Linked DNA regions of Homo sapiens: region 2 is reported to be linked to region 1. Evidence: microRNA targets listed by miRTarBase, many of them from high-throughput screens and not tested one by one. Region 1 holds a microRNA gene; the other region holds the end of a gene's coding sequence.

Region 1 (4,066 bases):
GCTTGGCAGTAGGATTGGTGGTACGGGCAGAAGCCAGGCGACAGCTGTTACACAGTGCAGAGGTGTGTTTAGCCACAATGGTGGCTGCAGAGAGCACCTGAGGAGACACATGGAAGAGCCACGATGAGGGCAGGAAGGAGGTGTACATACCCAAGGAGGAGCCATTTTAGGGTCAGGGGATGGAGAGCAATACCCTGAGGAGTCAAAACAGGAATAACAGAGTCACCTGAAAAGTCAAGATCTAGGAGACAGAGATACCCAAAGATGAACTGGGCATGGGAGAGGAAAGACATACTAATGGAGAAACCATAAGAGGGCATGTGGGAGAGTAAGCTCGAACATCTACAGAGAAGTTGTGAATTTAGCAGTAACTGATAAATGATGAGACCCATGGCAGAAAAAGACAGTTACCCAAAAAGAAGCTGTGTGTGCAAGGTCAGAGATGGGTCCCTGCCCTCTTTCCCACATGCCTCACCTCCCTCTACTCCACGGGGTCGGTCTGCCCTTTCCCAGACTCGCCTGTGGTCCCTGTTCCCTTGAGTTACCTGGGCCTGGGTACAGCCAGGCTCTCCCAAACTCTGGCAGGCCATCTGAATTGCCTGGTTTGCACGGGCAAACTGTGTGGGCTCCACTAGCCCTTGCTGTCCAGCTTGGCTATTGGGGTCAGAGACACCAACCAGATATGCAGCCTGGGAAGAGAAAAGGGGGTGGGGGTGAGGAATAAAGATTGCAGGTGGGAAATGAATAGTGATAGTAGGGACAAAAGAGAGCAGAGGTAAGTTTAGAGAATAGGGCTTATTTTCCAGAGTTCTCCATGAGTGGAGATACATTAGCAAACAATGGTTACACTATAAAGAAGAAAAAAAATACTCTCCTGTTTTCATTAAGTATATTCAAGCATTTCAGAAGATTAAAAAAGTTAATAAAAAGGAAAACTACATAGCAAGGGTTTTTATCCAATCTCTATTTAGATATGTTTGTGTATGTTGGGTCTTAGAGTGAAAAGTATGGCTTACTGTAAGTAGCAGTAAAACGTTTGAGAGCCATATATAAATACACACCTTTGTGCACACAAGCAAAGCCTCTTTTAAAGACAGTTCAAAACTGATGAAGGTTATTAGGCTAATTCACATTTATAGCACCTCCATGCGTCAGATATTTGGAAAGGAAGGGAGGGGTTAAAAAGCCATTTTTATGATGGAAAGAACATCCTAATGTTTGATTCATACTTCAATCAATACACAGTAGCTTTGCTTTTTCCTCTATGCATTTTCAGAAGGTGGGGGGAAAAAAACCAAACAAACAACAAAGAGGTTTAGTGAAACCCTGTCTCTACTAAAAATACAAAAATCAGACGGGTGTGGTGGCAGGCGCCTGTAGTCCCAGCTACTCGGGAGGCTGAGGTAGGAGAATCACTTGAACCCGGGAGGCGGAGGTTGCAGTGAGCCGAGATTATGCCTCTGCACTCCAGCCTGGCGACAGAGCGAGACTCCGTCTCAAAAAACAAACAAACAAAAAACCAAAAAAACAAAAAAACAAAATCAAACAAGCCATCTAGAGCAAGGCGCCTATTCTGACAGGGCACAGGGAGGTGGTGGAGATGGAGGGCTAGGATGGTAGGCTTTCAGGGAAAATAGTCTGAAGTGAACTCTTATGATGCCAGTTTGTTTTAAGGATTCATATACTAAAGCAAAATACTTTACAGCTAATAGGTAGTTTTATACTTGATAATGTGGGAAAAGGCAAAGTTAAGTGATAACTCAAGTAACTGGAAATTTTGTCACTAGTACTATTTTAAGAAAGTAGTGATTGGCCGGGCGCGGTGGCTCACGCCTGTAATCCCAGCACTTTGGGAGGTCGAGACGGGCGGATCACGAGGTCAGGAGATCGAGACCATCCTGGCTAACACGGTGAAACCCCGTCTCTACTAAAAATACAAAAATTAGCCGGGCATGGTGGCGCGCGCCTGTAGTCCCAGCTACACGGGAGGCTGAGGCAGGAGAATGGCGTGAACCCGGGAGGCGGAGCTTGCAGTGAGTCTAGATCGCGCCACTGCACTCCAGCCTGGGCGACAGAGCGAAACTCGGTCTCAAAAAAAAAAAAAAAAAAAAAAAAAAAAGAAAGTAGTGATTACAGGCCAGGCGCGGTGGCTCACGCCTGTAATTCCAGCACTTTGGGAGGCCGAGGCAGGTGGATCACGAGTCAGGATATCGAGACCATCCTGGCTAACATGGTGAAACCCTGTCTTTACTAAAAAAAAAAAAAAAAATACAAAAAATTAGCCGGGTGTGGTGGTGAGCGCCTGTAGTCCCAGCTACTTGGAAGGCTGAGGCAGGAGACTAGCGTGAACCCGGGAGGCGGAGCTTGCAGTGAGCCTAGATCACGCCATTGCACTTCAGCCTGGGCGACAGAGCGAAACGCTGTCTCAAAAAAAAAAAAAAAAAAAAAGAAAGTAGTAATAACATGAAAAAATAGTTTGTATAAGCTAATTAGTATATTTTGAGAAAGCCAGCTGGAAAAGGCCTCACGGTTGGGCAGTGTAATCCTAACCAAAGTACCAGGGTTCAGGAATTACAGAAATCAGAACTGCTGGTGTTCAGTAATTGCTGACAAGTGTCTCCACTTCAGGAGGAGGACAACCCAGATTCCATAGAGTTGGCTTTGCAAACATAAACTTCTTGATTTATCTACAGGTATGTCAGGCTGAGAGAAAATGGGGTAAAGAAAGTAGGGGCCATTCAAAGAACCCATCTCAGGAAAATAACCTGTGCAGCTGCCTCGGTGAAGCCACAAAGTGCCTTTGAGGCTGTGGAAATGGCATCTCCAAACTCTGGCAGGTTTCCGTTCTTGGCATTTTGGGAGATGCCAGTCATGGCCTCGCCCAGCACCTGAGGAACAGAGGACATCAGGGGAGTCAGAGCATGTCCTCAGAACCCCAGGGCAGCATCTGGTTAGCTCCATCCTACTGCCCTCTCTCCTCCGAGTTCCTGGCTGTGCTGACCTTTGAGTTCTCCATTACACTGTCCAGGCAACCAAAGTAGGACATGTCATTGATGGGCTGGACTGGGTTCTCCAGGAGTTCCCGGACCGTCTGTGTAGGGGGAGGGCAAAGTGAGATCCAAGACACCTCCCTCAGGCCCAAAACCAGAACACTTCCCTCAACCTCAATGCCATCAGCCTGCCATGTGTCTACCTCCAATTCCCGCAGGGCGTTATCACACTCCTTCTGGCCGGGTGCCTGCTGGGTGCACATAGTGATGAGCTGATTGATGCTGTCAGTTACTGCCCTGGGAGTGACAGAAAGTTGAGTGAAAAGGTGAATAGGTCATCATTCCTGGGTCCTATGTAAGTATTTATCTTTTGCCTATAACCATTCCTAAGCCAAGAAGCTCTCATGAACTGCCTGCTCCCCAGTCTCTCTCACACAGTCCAGGGCTGGGCTTCTCAGCAACTACTTACCTGGCAGCTGCAGCCAGCTGACTCTTGAGGTTAGGGGCAGCAGGGTCCGTGGACAGGGCCTTGGCAGCCAGAAGAAGTTTGCTTGAAGACATGGAGATGCCCTTCAAGTTGGACACAACTTGGGCTCGGTCCTCCTGGCTCTGTTGAAGGTGACAAGGTCAATGCATTGTCCTGTCCTTTCTTATCTGTCTCTAAAAGGGATCTTCTTTCCCAGACACTCAAGTAGTGCTAGAGACTGGGGAGGGAAGGGAGCCAGGAGCAAGTCAGGACTGGTCACTCAACTGCCTCCTATCTAACCCTTAGTGGGAACCATTCAACCAGACCCTCTGCCTCTTCATACCGGAGCCTGGCCTGCCATCTCCACACCAGCTTCCAGGAAGGTGCTGAAGTCCTGTCCAAATCGGCCTGAGGCTCGAGCCAGGTCCTGAGGGGTTCCCCGAGAGGCCTGCACCAGTTCTGTGGCTGCCTGATTCAGCCCAGCAGCAGCTTCATTCAACCGGCTCTGAGCTTCTTGAAATGTCCCAGTGCTAGGAGGAAGCTGCAAGGTGAGAGGGGAAGTCAGACAGAAGAGTGGGGAATGATGCAGGGAGAAGTCTGGTAAAGGAGG
Region 2 (4,066 bases), not on the chromosome of region 1:
ACTCTGTCTCAAAAATAAATAAATAAATAAATAAATAAAGTACTTAGTAAGTGAAGTATATGGTAAGTACCTAAAACATGATAGTTGCTATGAGCTGTAGCTTTGATCAGTTTTCTCATTTTCCCTCCCCTGACAGTGTAGAGACCTGAGTCCTGACATGGTGTCCTCTCCACCGTGTTCCCTCTCTTCACTTCCACTTTCCTCCTCTGTCAGGTATTTTGTCAAAGTGGCCTGGGCCTGGACGTTCTGTCTCCTTCTGCCTTTCATTGCCCTCACCAACTACCATCTGACCGGCAAGGCTGGCTTGGTCCTGCGGCGGCTGAGCACCCTGCTTGTGGGCACGGCCATCTGGTACATCTGCACCTCCATCTTCTCCAACATCGAACACTACACGGGCAGCTGCTACCAGTCCCCAGCCCTGGAGGGGGTCAGAAAGGAACACCAGAGCAAGCAGCAGTGCCACCAGGAAGGGGGCTTTTGGCATGGCTTTGACATCTCAGGTCACTCCTTCCTGCTGACCTTCTGCGCCCTCATGATTGTAGAAGAGATGTCTGTGCTGCATGAGGTGAAGACGGACCGAAGCCACTGCCTCCACACCGCCATCACCACCCTGGTTGTGGCCCTGGGCATTCTGACTTTCATCTGGGTGTTGATGTTTCTGTGCACAGCTGTTTATTTCCACAACTTGTCCCAGAAGGTGTTTGGCACCTTGTTTGGTTTGCTGAGCTGGTACGGGACATACGGGTTTTGGTATCCGAAAGCCTTTTCCCCAGGACTTCCTCCCCAGAGCTGTAGTTTGAATTTGAAGCAAGATAGTTACAAGAAATAAAAGAGTAACAGAGGGGGGACAGAAGGACAATGGCTAATCTATTTTTCAAATATATATTTTGCTTAGTTATTTGGCTAAATTATTGATCCTACTTCAGAGGGAAAGTGTACCAGGCAGTTTTGGTGGGTGGTGCTGAAGTCTGGGGAGTGAGTTTAGTCTTCAGACTATTCTTGGCGACATCACCAGTGTTGCAAGCACCACCATTCCCAGTTAGGCACTTTTTGTCCCTGGTAAGACTTGACCTTTATCTGGAACACTCCTTTTGTCCCTAGAGTGGGGACCTAAGGCTCAGCAAAAGGGCAGAATCAGGAAAGCCTTTATGGTGTGGCTAAAGGAGTGGCCAGAGCCTTGGGACTCCTTTGCTGCCTTCTCCCTGGTTCCAGTTGTCTTTAGATTTTCACGGCTCTTACTGCTGTTACTTAACAGTATTTTCCAGCCAGGCATGGTGGTTCACACCTCTAATCCCTGCACTTTGGGAGGCCGAGGCAGGCGGATCACCTGAGATTGGGAGTTCGAGACCAGCCTGTCCAACATGGCGAACCTCGTCTCTTCTAAAAATACAAAAATTAGCTGGGTGTGGTGGCACATGCCTGTAATCCCAGCTACTCAGGAGGCTGAGGCAGGAGAATTGCTTGGACCTAGGAGGTGGAGGTTGCAGTGAGCTGAGATCGCACCACTGCACTCCAGCCTGGGTGACAGAGCAGACTCCACCTCAAAAAAGAAAAAACAAAACAAAACAGTATTTCCCACTGGTCAGTTTTGCATAGGCATCTATTTCAGGCAGGGTTTTTTTCTTTTTTTTGAGATGGAGTTTTGCTCTTGTTGCCCAGGCTGGGGTGCAATGGCCCGATCTCGGCTCACCGCAACCTCCACCTCCCAGGTTCAAGCGATTCTCCTGCCTCAGCCTCCCGAGTAGCTGGGATTACAGGCATGCGTCACCACACCAGGCTAATTTTGTATTTTTAGTAGAGATGGGGTTTCTCCATGTTGGTCAGGCTGGTCTCAAACTCCTGACCGCAGGTGATCCACCTGCCTCGGCCTCCCAAAGTGCTGGGATTACAGGCATGAGCCACCGCGCCCGGCTCAGGCAGGGTTCTTTATAAAAACAGCCTGATGCCTGAAGGACACTCTCTGGTTGTAATATTTGTTTCATCCATGAAGTGTTTAAATATTGCAACTGACTTGCGATTAGCCACCAAAACAGGCCCTTTTAGATGCAGTGCCTCTCCGACCAAGTATTGGATGATTCATACGTAATGGACTATGATCATTTTCTGTCCATGTTTTCTATTACTATATGCTGGTTTTTTTGGAGCAATAAGATTACTTTTTTTCTGTTCTATTTTGAGCGAATCCTTTACAGTTTTTGATAAGAACTGTGACATTTGTTCTTTGTTGATAAAACTCCTGAAAATAACTCACAAGGCCAGTGCTGCACTCTGGCACATGTAGGTTGTTTTGAGGGTTTGTTGGTTGGTTGGTTGGCTGGTTGATTGGTTGGTTGGTTTAGAACACTAATGTACTTGTTATGAACCAAACTCTGGTCTTACAGTCTTAAATTCCACCTCATGGGGCTGTTTTCTCTGTTAGCAATGAAACCTGGGCCAGGTGTAGTGGCTCACACCTATAATCCTGGCACTTTGGGAGGCTGAGGTGGGAGGATTACTGGATCCCAGGAGTTTGAGACCAGCCTGGGCAACATAGTGAGACCCTGGTTTCTATAAATAAATAAGATAATCAAACCAGAAAGCAGGCATTTTAGTAACAGCCTGTTGAATTTTAAGGTGAATCAAGGTAATTTTGCAGAATGCGTTCTTGCACCGAAATGTCCCTGACCACATATCAGTGGTATAGACTGAACAGTGTGCTTCAGGGTCATGTGCTGAGTGCACTGATCACTCTGCTGTGGCCCAGGGCATCTGTACCTGTTGGACAAGATTATGATAATTCAGAAGTGAAGTAAAATGCCTCCCTCTGATGGCAAAAAGCCAACCTGTTTGCAAAATCACCCTTATTGAAGGGTGGCATGGCTGTGGTCCCTCCCTCCTGTTACTTGCATCACCAACCAAACTAAACCAAACCATACCTGGGCCTGTTCAGCTGGACTTGAAATCAGTTTCCTTTTTCTCTCCCCTTTGCAGCACTTTTCAGTTTCCAGCTTTGTCATTCTGTGGCCTTTGCTGTGACAATGCTGGGAAGGGTTAGAAATCCTGTCACCTCCATCCACAAAGGCACAGTTCCACGCCCTGTGATAAGATATCCCCTCTTCTCTCCCAGACTGTCTCCTTAAGCCTTTCAAACTGAGCCCCTTGCTGTTGGGGTAATCACCCTTAAGGCCGCCTTGATGCCCCTCTCTCCAATCAAGTCCAATAGTAGCATTAACTGAGAAGCACTACACCTGACTGGCTTCACTGAAGCTTAAGTGGTTGAGGATGAATCTTCGGTGTAAAATCTTTTACTATAAGGATATATTTTAAATATTTCATATCCCATCAAGTTGGAGGTTAATTTTATCCATCACAATGAGTCATGATTTGTTGCACCCAAAAGGAGCAGAAACACAGGTGATGAGATATGGGAGGTGGCACCATGGTGCTTTGGAGGCGTTGGTAAGATGTGACCCTCTGTTGCCTATGCCCATAAACCAGTGGTGGGAGTGGCCATGGAGTAGATGGCAGGGGCTTGTTGAAGGGATTGAAAGCTCTCCTAGGCTAGGCATGGTGGCTCACACCTGTAATCCTAGCACTTTGGGAGGCTGAGATGGGAGGATCACTTGAGGTTGGGCCAGCCTAGCCAACATGATAAAACCCCGTCTCGACTAAAAATACAAAAATTAGCCAGGTGTGGTGGTACACGCCTGTAATCCCAGCTACTCGGGAGGCTGGGGCAGGAGAATCGCTTGAACCCAGGAGGCAGAGGTTGCAGTGAGCTAGGATCACGCCACTGCACTCCAGCCTGAGCGACAGAGTGAGACTCTGTCTCAAAAAAAAAAAAGGCTCTCCAAAGTGTCATGTTCAGCACCAAAAGGGAATAGGCACAGGGTGACCCCAGAAGTTCATTTGTGACACTTAAATCTCCAGATATTTATCCCACGTGGGTCTGATGCGGGCTCAGCACTAAATTAACTGTATGTGGAAAGTGTCAATTGCAGAGCCTTCTGTATCGATGAGGCTTCCGCCACTTGTCCATGCTTAGCCCCCTTGCCTCTTCCTTGGGAGCATGCTTTCTATTCCTATG

The links. The annotated mature microRNA hsa-miR-6852-5p reads CCCUGGGGUUCUGAGGACAUG and lies in region 1 at 2,921-2,941, opposite strand. An mRNA with a match to its seed (bases 2 to 7 or 8) in the 3' UTR can be bound and repressed. Matches are read on the target gene's strand: a 7mer-m8 pairs with bases 2 to 8, a 7mer-A1 pairs with bases 2 to 7 and ends in A, and an 8mer does both.
Region 2: miRTarBase lists FITM2 as a target of hsa-miR-6852-5p. Seed matches in the 3' UTR shown: 7mer-A1 at 2,501-2,507 and 7mer-A1 at 3,734-3,740.

The regions. Positions count from the first base shown.
Region 1 is chr9:35,707,796-35,711,861 of GRCh38, forward strand. MIR6852 (microRNA 6852) reads right to left here and starts at 2,946; the gene lies at 2,881-2,946. TLN1 (talin 1) reads right to left here. Exons shown (of 57, transcript NM_006289.4): 29 at 3,800-3,997; 30 at 3,460-3,599; 31 at 3,194-3,287; 32 at 3,002-3,091; 33 at 2,766-2,888; 34 at 546-689; 35 at 1-97. RefSeq lists an enhancer at 2,986-4,066.
Region 2 is chr20:44,303,388-44,307,453 of GRCh38, reverse strand. FITM2 (fat storage inducing transmembrane protein 2) reads left to right here. Exons shown (of 2, transcript NM_001080472.4): 2 at 214-4,066. The coding sequence ends at 829. Among named protein-coding and RNA genes, the nearest start is that of FITM2, 5.8 kb to the left of the region's middle.